Linked DNA regions of Homo sapiens: region 2 is linked to region 1. The links come from fine-mapping of genetic effects on gene expression. A gene starts in region 1. The other region holds a variant in brackets. All regions are shown on one strand. Distances are from middle to middle.

Evidence for each region. PIP is the estimated chance that this variant, and not a neighbour inherited with it, causes the effect.
Region 2: its variant is the best candidate, but not a certain one, in a credible set for the expression of UBE2D1 in blood mononuclear cells (TOPMed, PIP 0.62).

Annotation. Positions count from the first base shown.
Region 1 is chr10:58,331,776-58,337,014 of GRCh38, reverse strand. It overlaps UBE2D1 (ubiquitin conjugating enzyme E2 D1), which reads right to left and starts at 2,009. Exons shown (of 7, transcript NM_003338.5): 1 at 1,790-2,009. The coding sequence starts at 1,813. RefSeq lists a silencer at 1,625-2,144 and enhancers at 1,952-2,246, 1,845-2,345.
Region 2 is chr10:58,429,005-58,434,243 of GRCh38, reverse strand. It overlaps LOC105378316 (a long non-coding RNA gene), which reads right to left and starts at 318. Exons shown (of 5, transcript XR_945984.3): 1 at 203-318. The variant C/A (reference allele first, on the strand shown) is at 3,289.

The DNA of each region.
Region 1 (5,239 bases):
TTACAAATAATGTTCATATTTCTTTGAATATCCACTTACTGTGGACAAATTATACAGCTTAAGCTATTGTTAGTTGGGTATGGTGACTTGTGTCTGTAATCCCAGACTTTCTGGAGGCCAGGAGTTCAAGATCAGCATGGGCAATATAGTGAGATCCCCATCTCTTAAAAAAACACAATGAAATTTAAAAAGCTCTTGTATGTGCAAAATCATGTGAAAAATTCTCACAACTAGGAAAGAAGGAAATAGAATTTGAAAACTTCCTTGGAAGATGTGCATTTTCTGATCCAAATGTGAACCAATATTACTTCGTCATTAATAAGTATGCAAGGTATGGTAAAGATGCTAAGGCTTCAAAATTAGGGTATTTATATAAAACAATGTGTAATTGCGCTACCTTCAAACAAGAAAACATTATTACTTAATAAATGCTGATGCTGATTGTTAACTGTATGTTTTACAATGAGATGACCTTTAAATGGCACAAAAAATAACAGGTGATCCACAGATTTAGAATTTGAAAATAAAAAACTGGCAGGCTCTAAAAGTTGCTGTCCTCTGTACCTAAAGATGTCACCAGTGGCGAGTCAGAATGCAATGCGTACGTCACTATCACTGCTCTAACATATACTATTGCTATAATGGACTCCTGGTCAAAAAAGTGGATAAAAATGTGGGCATCAATTTCTTCTGAAACAACTACAAAATACACTGTCCATTGTTGCTTAACTTAGTGAAAAGCACTCCCTATTTAACAAACACATTCTCAATGTTGCCAGTGTGAACTGTAACTGTAAAACCTAAAACTTGGGTCAGTACACAGACCAACAAGAAATAAAAATGAACAGAAAGAAATGCCCGAATCTGAATTCTGAAGGATGTTCGCATCTGAAATGGTGGCAATAAATACTGTGAAAAAAAGACGATTCCATACACAGGGTTGAGATGGGTAAACAGTTGTTGGATGAAGATATATATTTCTTCCTCATTCTATACCCATGTGTCAAAGCATCAAAACAATTTATTTGCGACAGTTTATGTTGTGTCTCGAACTTTACATCTAAGTTTATCATGAGGGGGAAAAAAACCTGTTTGGCTTGACTCACCGTGAATCACAGCCAGGAGGTCATCTTGTTGTGTATCAGCAACTATGTTTTCGCTACAGCTATGTGACCTGAAGTGGCAGCAGCAGAGGCACCAAAATAGAAGGGGCAGGAGCCTTCTCCTGACTTCTTGGCCGCAAATGGGCTTTCCAGCCCATTCGGGCAACTGAGCAAGAGCCAACCGCAGAGGAGAGAAAGAACCAACCCGACAGCTCCGCGGAGAAAGGCTGCAGGCCCACCCCACCTTCCTTGCCCTCCCGGGGAGGCCGGGTAAGCAAGAACATAAAAGAGGACAGGCTTAAGAAACAGCCTGGAGAAAACACAGCATGACAGGGGTCAAAACTAGCCCCATGGAGGGCAAAACCCGGCCGTGACCGTGAAGCACAGATTTCGGGACGGTCTGGACGCGCAAGAGGCTCTCTACCCTGGGGCTCCGGGAGCGGCTCCGGCGCGAACGCGCGCGGGCCCCCAGCCTTCAAGCTCCTCCGGCCGCCTGGGACCTGACCCTGCTCCCACCTCACCTGTCCGATGCCCGCTGGCCCGGCCCGAGCCTTCAGCTCCCTGCCCGCACCCCGGCCCACCCTTCCATCCCTTGCTCTCCCCGCATGTCTCTCGGGACCACTGGCCGAGTCAGCGTGGGCAGGGGGCCGCTGCCCCGCAGCCCCAGGCCCGGCCCCGGCACTCACTTTCTGAATCCTCTTCAGCGCCATGGGTCAGGGATGGCGGTGGGGACACCGGCCGGCAGGGGTCGGCTGCGGGGCTCAGGGGCGTGGGTCGTCGCGGGTTGGGCTCGCTGGCAGCTAGGCTGGCTCCGCGCGGTGGGTCCCCGGTTAGCCGCTCCCTGGCTCGCTCCGGGCGCCGGTCCCTGCTCCGTGTGCGCCCGAGCGCGAGTGTGCGCGAGTGTGCGGGCGGGGACGCCGGCGAGACTCTTTTGTTTCCGCTTTTGCTTCTGGGAAGGAGCCTGCGCCCTCCCCGCCGCGCCCCGCCCCGCCTGGCACACTGGGAAGTGTAGTTCCAGCCCTGTCCTCGGCTGCAGGCCCCCGGACGCTGCCAGGTAACTTACTGCTGACCTCAGCCAGGCAGCTTAAGGTGAGAGCTGCCGGGGGCTGGAATTAGCCTCTACAGTCTCATTTAGAGCAAATTGCTGAACCTGGGGCTGCGCATCTGTAAAATGGGGATAACAAATGAGCTCCTAACGCACATAAAGGAATTTCTAAATCATCAGTTAGTAATTCCTTATCCAATAGGTGCCACAGCTGGTTTTATTATTTTTACCTTTAAAGATTTCACTGTCTTTTCTCAAATATATGGATTGTCTCACTCACCCTGCACACATGCACAAACTCATATCAGACCCCCTACTTACCTCCTTGGTTCTTATTGCAGAGGAAAAAGGTGTCTCTTCTGTCCAATGTGCAAATCTTCCTTGTCTGAGTGCATTGTCTGCTCGTAGGTATGCCCCTCCCATAAATTACCCACTTCGAACACCGAGTTCTGGGCTCTCACTCCCATCATTGGTTCCTTCCCTTCCGTTGACAGTCCCTGACCAATAGTCAACTCACGCTCCCCACTCTCCAATTCCTATGCACTTGTGTACCCATTAAAACTTGGCTTCTTGGCCAAGATGAGATTTGGGTGGGGACACAGCCAAACCATATCACTCAGGGATATAAAGATGGCAACAAATAGACACTGTGGACTACTAGAGAGGGGACCGAGGGAGCAAAGGTTGAAAAACTGTTGGGTACTATTGTCAGTACCTGGGTGATAAAATCATTCATACCACAAATGTCAGCATCACACAGCATACCCAGGTAGCAAACTTGCATATGTGGCCTCTAAATCTAAAATAAAAGTTGAAAAACAAAAACAAACAAACAAAAACAGAATCTTGAGCCCCACTCCAGACATGCTACATCACACTTTGCAGTTTAATAAGACTCCTAGGTGATTCAGATGAACATTAGGGTTTGAGAAGCACTATGCTGGAAGGCATAAGAGGAGATCCTAAAAATGCAGATTTCCTTTAAAGGATTTAATTTAGCAGTAAGTTTTGGGTGAAGCTCTGGAGTCTAAACTTTAGAACAAACTTCCCAGGAAGTTAGGATGCAGGTATCTGAGGACACTTTTGAGAATCTCCACCTTGAGCAAATCTTCAAATCCTTCTAAGCCTCAATTTCCTCACCCATAACTAATGCAATAAATGTTGTATTTGTTTAAAGGGAATAGAGCTGAAACTTTTGGTGCCCTTCTAACTCAAAGGTCTATGATTTGCACAAAAAATGGTGATTTTTTTCTCTTCTTTATAAATAGAAAGAAACCTAAAAAGTAAGCTTACAAGATTATTTTTGTCTTTCCTAGGGCAGTTTACCTCCCAACAAAAGAGAAATTAACACTTATTAAAAAAATCTACGTTGGTATCTTGCAATAATAGTTTACACTTTAAGATTGCTTTAAATGGGCTGGGCACAGTGGCTCACGCGTGTAATTCCAGCACTTTTGGAGGCCAAGGCAGGTGGATCACCTGAGGTCAGAAGTTCGAGACCAGCCTGGTCAACATGGTGAAACTCCTTCTCTACCAAAAATTCAAAAATTAGCCAGGCGTGTTGGCACATGTCTGTAATCCTAGCTACTTGGGAGGCTGAGGCAGGAAAATCGCTAGAACCTGGGAGGCAGCAGTTTTACTGAGCCGAGATGGAGCCATTGCACTCCCGCCTGGGTGACAGAGTGAGACTCCATCTCAAAAAAAAAAAATTGCTTTAAGCTTTTCAAAACATTTCACACACATTTTTGCAACATGCAAATACATGTGCAACATATAGTAGTTCAGTGTGTTATTTAATCTCCTACTCTTTCTCCCAGGATGTAGTTTCAAAACATAGTTTGTGATCAACTGCATAACTAATTCAAAAATGTTACTTAATGCTTACTATATGCCAGGCACTGAAGACACATGATAAAGAAAATAGACAAGATCCCTACTCACAAGCAGAACATCAAAATCCTATGGGGTGGGGAGGAGGGTACAAGACTTGTTAAAAATGCAGATTTCTAGGCATCAGGCCACACTGTCAATAAATAATCCTTGCCCTCTGAATTATCTCTGTTTGGGATATTATACTGCACTAGGTGGTAAAATATATGCAAAAGAAAGATTATATTTGGTCTTACCTTCCATAAACTTAAAATCTTCATGGTAGGAAGATAAATGCATAAAACAAATAAGTAGCAATGCAAGATATTCATTCATTCAGTCAGTCAGTCAGTCATGCAGACAACAGCAACAACAAATTTCAGGAAAATTTCCTTAAAGCAAAACAAATGGTGCAGAGGATAAGGGCTAAAGATGTTCAAAAGGGCATTGCCATGGACGGAGAGTAAGGGAAACTTTGTAGAGACAATAGAACTTGAATGCAAGACGCATTTGGAAAAGCAAAAGAATAGGTGAAGAACTTCCAATCGTAAGGAAATGCATGTGGAATGGACATAAGTATGAAATGCTCAACATGGAGGCCAAGCAAGGAAATACAACTAAGTCCAATGGTTGAGATCAGATAGTGAAGGACATTGACTGTTAGTCTTAGAAACATGAAATTGAGCTTAAATGCAACAAGAGGTTGTGTATCAGGAGAGTATTATTGTGACAGTGATGCATTAAATAGACAATTAGTCTAGTGGAGGGACATGGAATGAGGACAGAATCAGGAAAGGGAAACAAGTTCAATTACTATTGCAGTATTTAGGACCAAAATAATAAGGGCCTGCCTGTACAAGGTTGATAGCACTAGAAACCCAAAGAAGAACTTTTTGAGAAAAAAAAAAAAAAAAGCCATGGAACTTTGTTGCAATTACATACAGAAGTAGAAAAATAGAAGAGTAAATATGAACTCTAAATTTATGAGTGGTGGATTGAGTTAAAGGTGTTAACATTGATAAGCTTTTGGAGGGGAGAATGGTAAACCGAGCTTAAGACATACACATATATGAAATGTATGTGGTATTCAAGTGGAACTTCCCTAGTGGTAGGTAGAGATATGGGGCTGAGAATATGGATATGAGAGCAATCATGTGAGAGAATGATTTTGAAACCGTAAGATACAAATTGCTTCCCAAAGAGGAAAGGGGAAGACAGAGAA
Region 2 (5,239 bases), 97 kb before region 1:
GAATACCACAAACATTATATTGAGCAAAAAAAGCAAATAGAAAAAAAATACTGTATGCTTTAATTTACGTAAAGTTAAAAACTAGGCAAAATTACGCTGTTAGAAGTCAGGATAGAGATTATTCTCGGGGGTTAGGAGTGGAGTATGGGGAGGTCTTCTGCCCTTCTAGTAACTTTCCATTTCTTATGTAGACACTACTTACCCTGATGTGTTCAGGTTGTGAGCAAGTTATGCACTTTTCACTTTTTATGTTATGTTTTAATTAAAAACTTTTTAAAAAGTCATCTTCTCGTATGTGCTACAATATGGATGAACTTTTGAAGACATTATCCTGAGTAAAATAAGCCAGAAACAAAAGGATAAATATTGCATGAATTCACGTATGAGGTTCTTAGAGTAGTCAAATTCATAGATACAGAAAGTAGAACAGTGGTTGCCAGGGGATGGGGGGATGGAATAGTGGATGATTTGGGTTTAATGAGTTGAGAGTTTCAGTTTATGATCGTGAATAAGTTCTGGAGATGGATGTGGACGATGGTTGCATAACAGTGAGATTGTACTTAATGCCACTGAACTGTACCTTTCAAATGGTTAAACTGGTCAATTTTATGTTACGTATATTTCACCATAACTTAAAAAGTCATATCATTGCAGACTTTCCTGATCACCTCACATAAATGGTACTTAACATAATAGGTTCTCAGTAAATGTCTGATGAACCAACACATTTTCCAGGAGATCTGAGGCAAGTTATGAAACACTTCTGTAAATCTTTCCTTTAGTTATTTATTTATTCATTCATTATAAAAATCTTTATTAAGCATTTATGCATATATTTTGGGGGAATTAAAAAGTGAAATGAGACAGCATGTTTTTCCAGAGATGAAACTAGCTCTTGCAAGTAGAAATGCATTCCCAGCCTTTGGCTAGCTCTCGGCTAGAGGCTGGGTCAGAACAGCACATAGATTTCAACTCAATGTGACAGATCAAATTGTTTAGTATTAGCTGCTTCCAGAATTTGTTGAAAAGGATTCTGAGGCCCATCAGGGCTCAGCAGTAAAATAAATATCATTAAAAAAGAGTTAGCTTTGTGAACTTGGACAAGTTAAAAAAATTAATAATATTTACATGAGACCTTGAAAGAGGCGTGATGGCATGGGTATTGTGGGTTTTGCTATCCATCCTTAGGCTTGCTCGTGTCTCACCAAGAGTGTTGCAGATGTGAATCAGAAATCAGACTCAACCTGAACTAACAGATGATTTCCAGGTCTTTTTCACCTGGGAGTCTTTGAGAATAAAAATGAGTCCCAGTGCTTAATGGTCCTCATGGAGCTAAACAATAAGCTGCTCTAGTTTCTTTTCTACAAAATGAGAGGAATTATTACTGTTATTCTATTCCTTGGTTCACAGACATATTAGGGAGGTGGAATCCCTAAGATAAACTCTAAACAAACACACATTTGGATGTCCTTTTGAACCTTGATGAGAGCAAAAGGAATGAATATAAGATAATGAAATTATTATTACAACTGACATTTTTGAGAATCTATTGTGTACTATGTAATACTTTAAGTATCTAAGGTAGCTTGTAGCATCATCTTTTTTTTTTTTTTTTTTTGAGATGGAGTCTCACTGTGTTGCCCAGGCTGGAGTGCAGTGGCACGATCTCGGGCTCACTGCAACTTCTGCTTCCCGGGTTCAAGAGATTCTCCTGCCTCAGCCTCCCAAGTAGCTGGAATTACAGGCGCCCACGACCACGCCAGGCTAATTTTTGCATTTTTAGTAGAGACGGGGTTTCACCATATTGGCCAGGCTGCTCTGGAATTCCTGACCTTGTGATCACCCTGCCTCAGCCTCCCAAAGTGCTGGGATTACAGACGTGAGCCACCATGCCCGGCCATAGCATCGTATTTTAACAACAAACTGATATGGTAGGAATTCTTATTCACAGTTTACAGAAAAGAACACTAACTCATAGAAAAACTTACAAACTTGCCCTAAGTCACATTGTTAATAAATACTTGATCTGGGATTGAACCCACATCTTTCCACACATCACAGAGACACTGTAGGAACTTGGTACTGCTTCTCAGACATTGCAATCCCACAAAAGGGCAAGGTCAGACTTGCTGTTAAAGGCAAATGTCCAAAGCACCTGTTCCCTTGCCAGATGTTGATGTTCTTGTCCTCTCTGCCAGCTCCTATCCCACAGGCAATCAGGGCCCTCACACTGTCCACCACCCTTGTCCACACACTCGCCCTGACTGAAGCCCTGAGGGTTCCCAGATCCCGCACCTGCCTTCCCACCCAGGGCTTTGTGCCTAGAGAGCTGCTCTTAAGCCCTTCTCTGAGGTCTTCTGAATACCCCTACTCCATCATCAGTCAAAACAGCTGTGTTTTTTTTTTTTTTTTGCTATACCTGTTAGGCTTCTGTTAAGTTGAACAATAGGAAACTGCTGATATTCAACCATATTGCCTGCAAAAATGTCAATTTCATATAATTCAATATAATACATAAACTTCCTTGTAAACAGAAAGTCTGTGACTAAATAATCTGAAAGTTATTGCCCTAGGCCTTTAATGAGCTTGATGTTTTGCTTGGCCCAGTAAAATTAAACTCTGTTCCTTCTCAGACATAACTTGTTAGAGAATAAATGGGTACAAGCCCTCTCCAGGGCAATTTGTCAAAACATATTTCTTAAAGCTTTCCAGTTTTGACATCCAATGAAGCAGCAAATTCACTTCCAGGAATCTATTATAAGGAAATTATTAAAGAAACAAAAAATATTTAGCCACTAGGATGTAAACATCTTTGTATTAATAGTGGGAAAATGTAAAACATACCCACCTCCCACACACATAAAACTAAATGTTCAATATCAAGAGTTTGGTTAATTAACTTACAGTATTTTTATATAATGCAATACTATACATTCATGAAAAATTATATATAACCAATAAAAAAGAATTCAGTAAAACAAAAAAGTAAATTTAATATTGAATGAAATAATCAATAGCTTTCCTATCCACAAGTGTAAGCCAGTTAGAATATATCATGAAAGAGAAGATCCCATTTAAAAAACTACAGGCCAGATGCAGTAGCTCACACCTGTAATATCAGCATTTTGGGAAGGCGAGGCAGAAGGATCACTTAAGGCCTGGAGTTCAAGACCAGCCTGCACAACAAAGAAAGACCCTATCTCTATGAAAAAAAAAAAATTAGCCAAGTGTGGCACACACCTGTAGTCCCAGCTACCCAGAAGTCTGAGGCAGAAGGATTGTTTGAGC[C/A]CAAGAGATCAAGGCTGCAGTGAGGCATGTTCATGCCACTGCACTCCAGCCTAGGCAACTGAGCAAGACCCTGTTTCAAAACAAAAAACCAACAACCAAAAAACCATAAAATACCTAGGAAGAAAATGGAACATGAAACATACAAAACCTATATGAGGAAAAATTCAAAACATTTCAAAAAGACACAAAGTTAAACTTGAATAATTGGGACACATAATAAATTCTTGGATAAGGAAATTCATTATCATAAAGATGTTAGTTCTCCCGAAGTTAACCTATTTATTTATTTATTGTGATTCCAACAAAAATGCTAATAAGATTTTTCATAAAGAAGACAAAATTATTCTAAAGTCGCATGGATATACCAAAATCAACTGAAGATGGATTAAAGACTTAAACAAAAGACCCAAATCTATAAAAATACTAGAAGAAAACCTAGGGAAAATTCTTCTAGATATAGGTCTAGGCAAGAATTTATGACTAAGACCTCAAAAGCACAGGCAATAAAAACAGGCAAATGGGACATAACTAAATGAAAACACTTCTGAACAGCAAAAGAAAGAATCAACAGAGTGAACAAATAATCTGCAGAATGAGAGAAATATTTGGAAACTATCCTACATGCAACTAATATCCAGAATATACAAGGAACTCAAAAAACTCAATGGGAAAAAAAAAAACAAATACTGTCATTAAAAAGTGGGCAAAGGATATAAATAGACATTTTTTCAAAAGAAGACATACAAATGGCCAACAGGTATATGAAAAAATGCTTGACGTCACTAATCATCAGAGAAATGCAAATTAAAACCACAATAAGATATCATCTTACCCCAATCAGAAGCTATTATTCAAAAGATAAAAGATTTGGGGGAGGGTGTGGAGAAAAGGGAATGCTTATACACTGTTGACGGGAATGTAAATTAGTAAAATCTCTATAGAAAACAGTAGGGAGATTTCTCAAAGAACTAAAAATGGAACTACCATTTGATCCAGCCATCTCATTACTGAGTATCTGGCCAAAGAAAGAGAAATCAATATATCAAAAAGATACCTGCACTTGTATGTTTATCAACTACTCACAATAGCAAAGATATGGAAGCAACCTAGTTTCCATCAGCAGGTGACTGGATAAAGAAAATGTGGTATATATAAAGAATAAAGTACTATTCAGCCATAAAAACATGAAATCATGTCTTTTGCAGGAACTTGGATGGAACAGGAGGGCATTGTCATAAATGAAACAAGCCAGACACAGAAATATAAATATTGCATGTTCTCACTTATAAATGAGTGCCAGAAAAGGTGTATATGTAAGTAGAGAGGGAAATGATAGACAATGGAGACTCAGAAGAGTGAAGGAGTGGAAGGGGATGGATAATTGGAAATCACTTAATGGGTACAAAGTACGTTATTTGGGTGATGGATATCCTAAAAGCACTGACATCACCACTATGCATGTAATAAAATTGTACTTATATCCCATAAATTTATACAATTAAAAAAATAAAGTCACATAGAAAAAAGGACAGGCAAGAACAGCCAAGAAGCAAGAAAGACAAGAGCAATGGTGGGGAGGGGAGCATAGCCATATCAGATATGAAAACATATTATAAAGCTTCTATAATTAAATTAGCATAATAATAGTTCACGACTGGACAGACAGACCAATAGAACAGAATTTTCTGAACAGAATAGAACCACCATCAGAGTGAACAGGCAATCTACAGAATGGGAGAAAATTTTTACAATCTACCCATCTGACAAAGGGCTTATATCCAGAATCTACAAAGAACTTAAATTTACAAGAAAAAATCAAACAACCCCATCAAAAAGTGGGCAAAGGACATGAACATATACTTCTCAAAAGAAGACATTTATGCAGCCAACAGACACATGAAAAAATGCTCATCAACACTGGCCATCAGAGAAACGCAAATCAAAACCACAA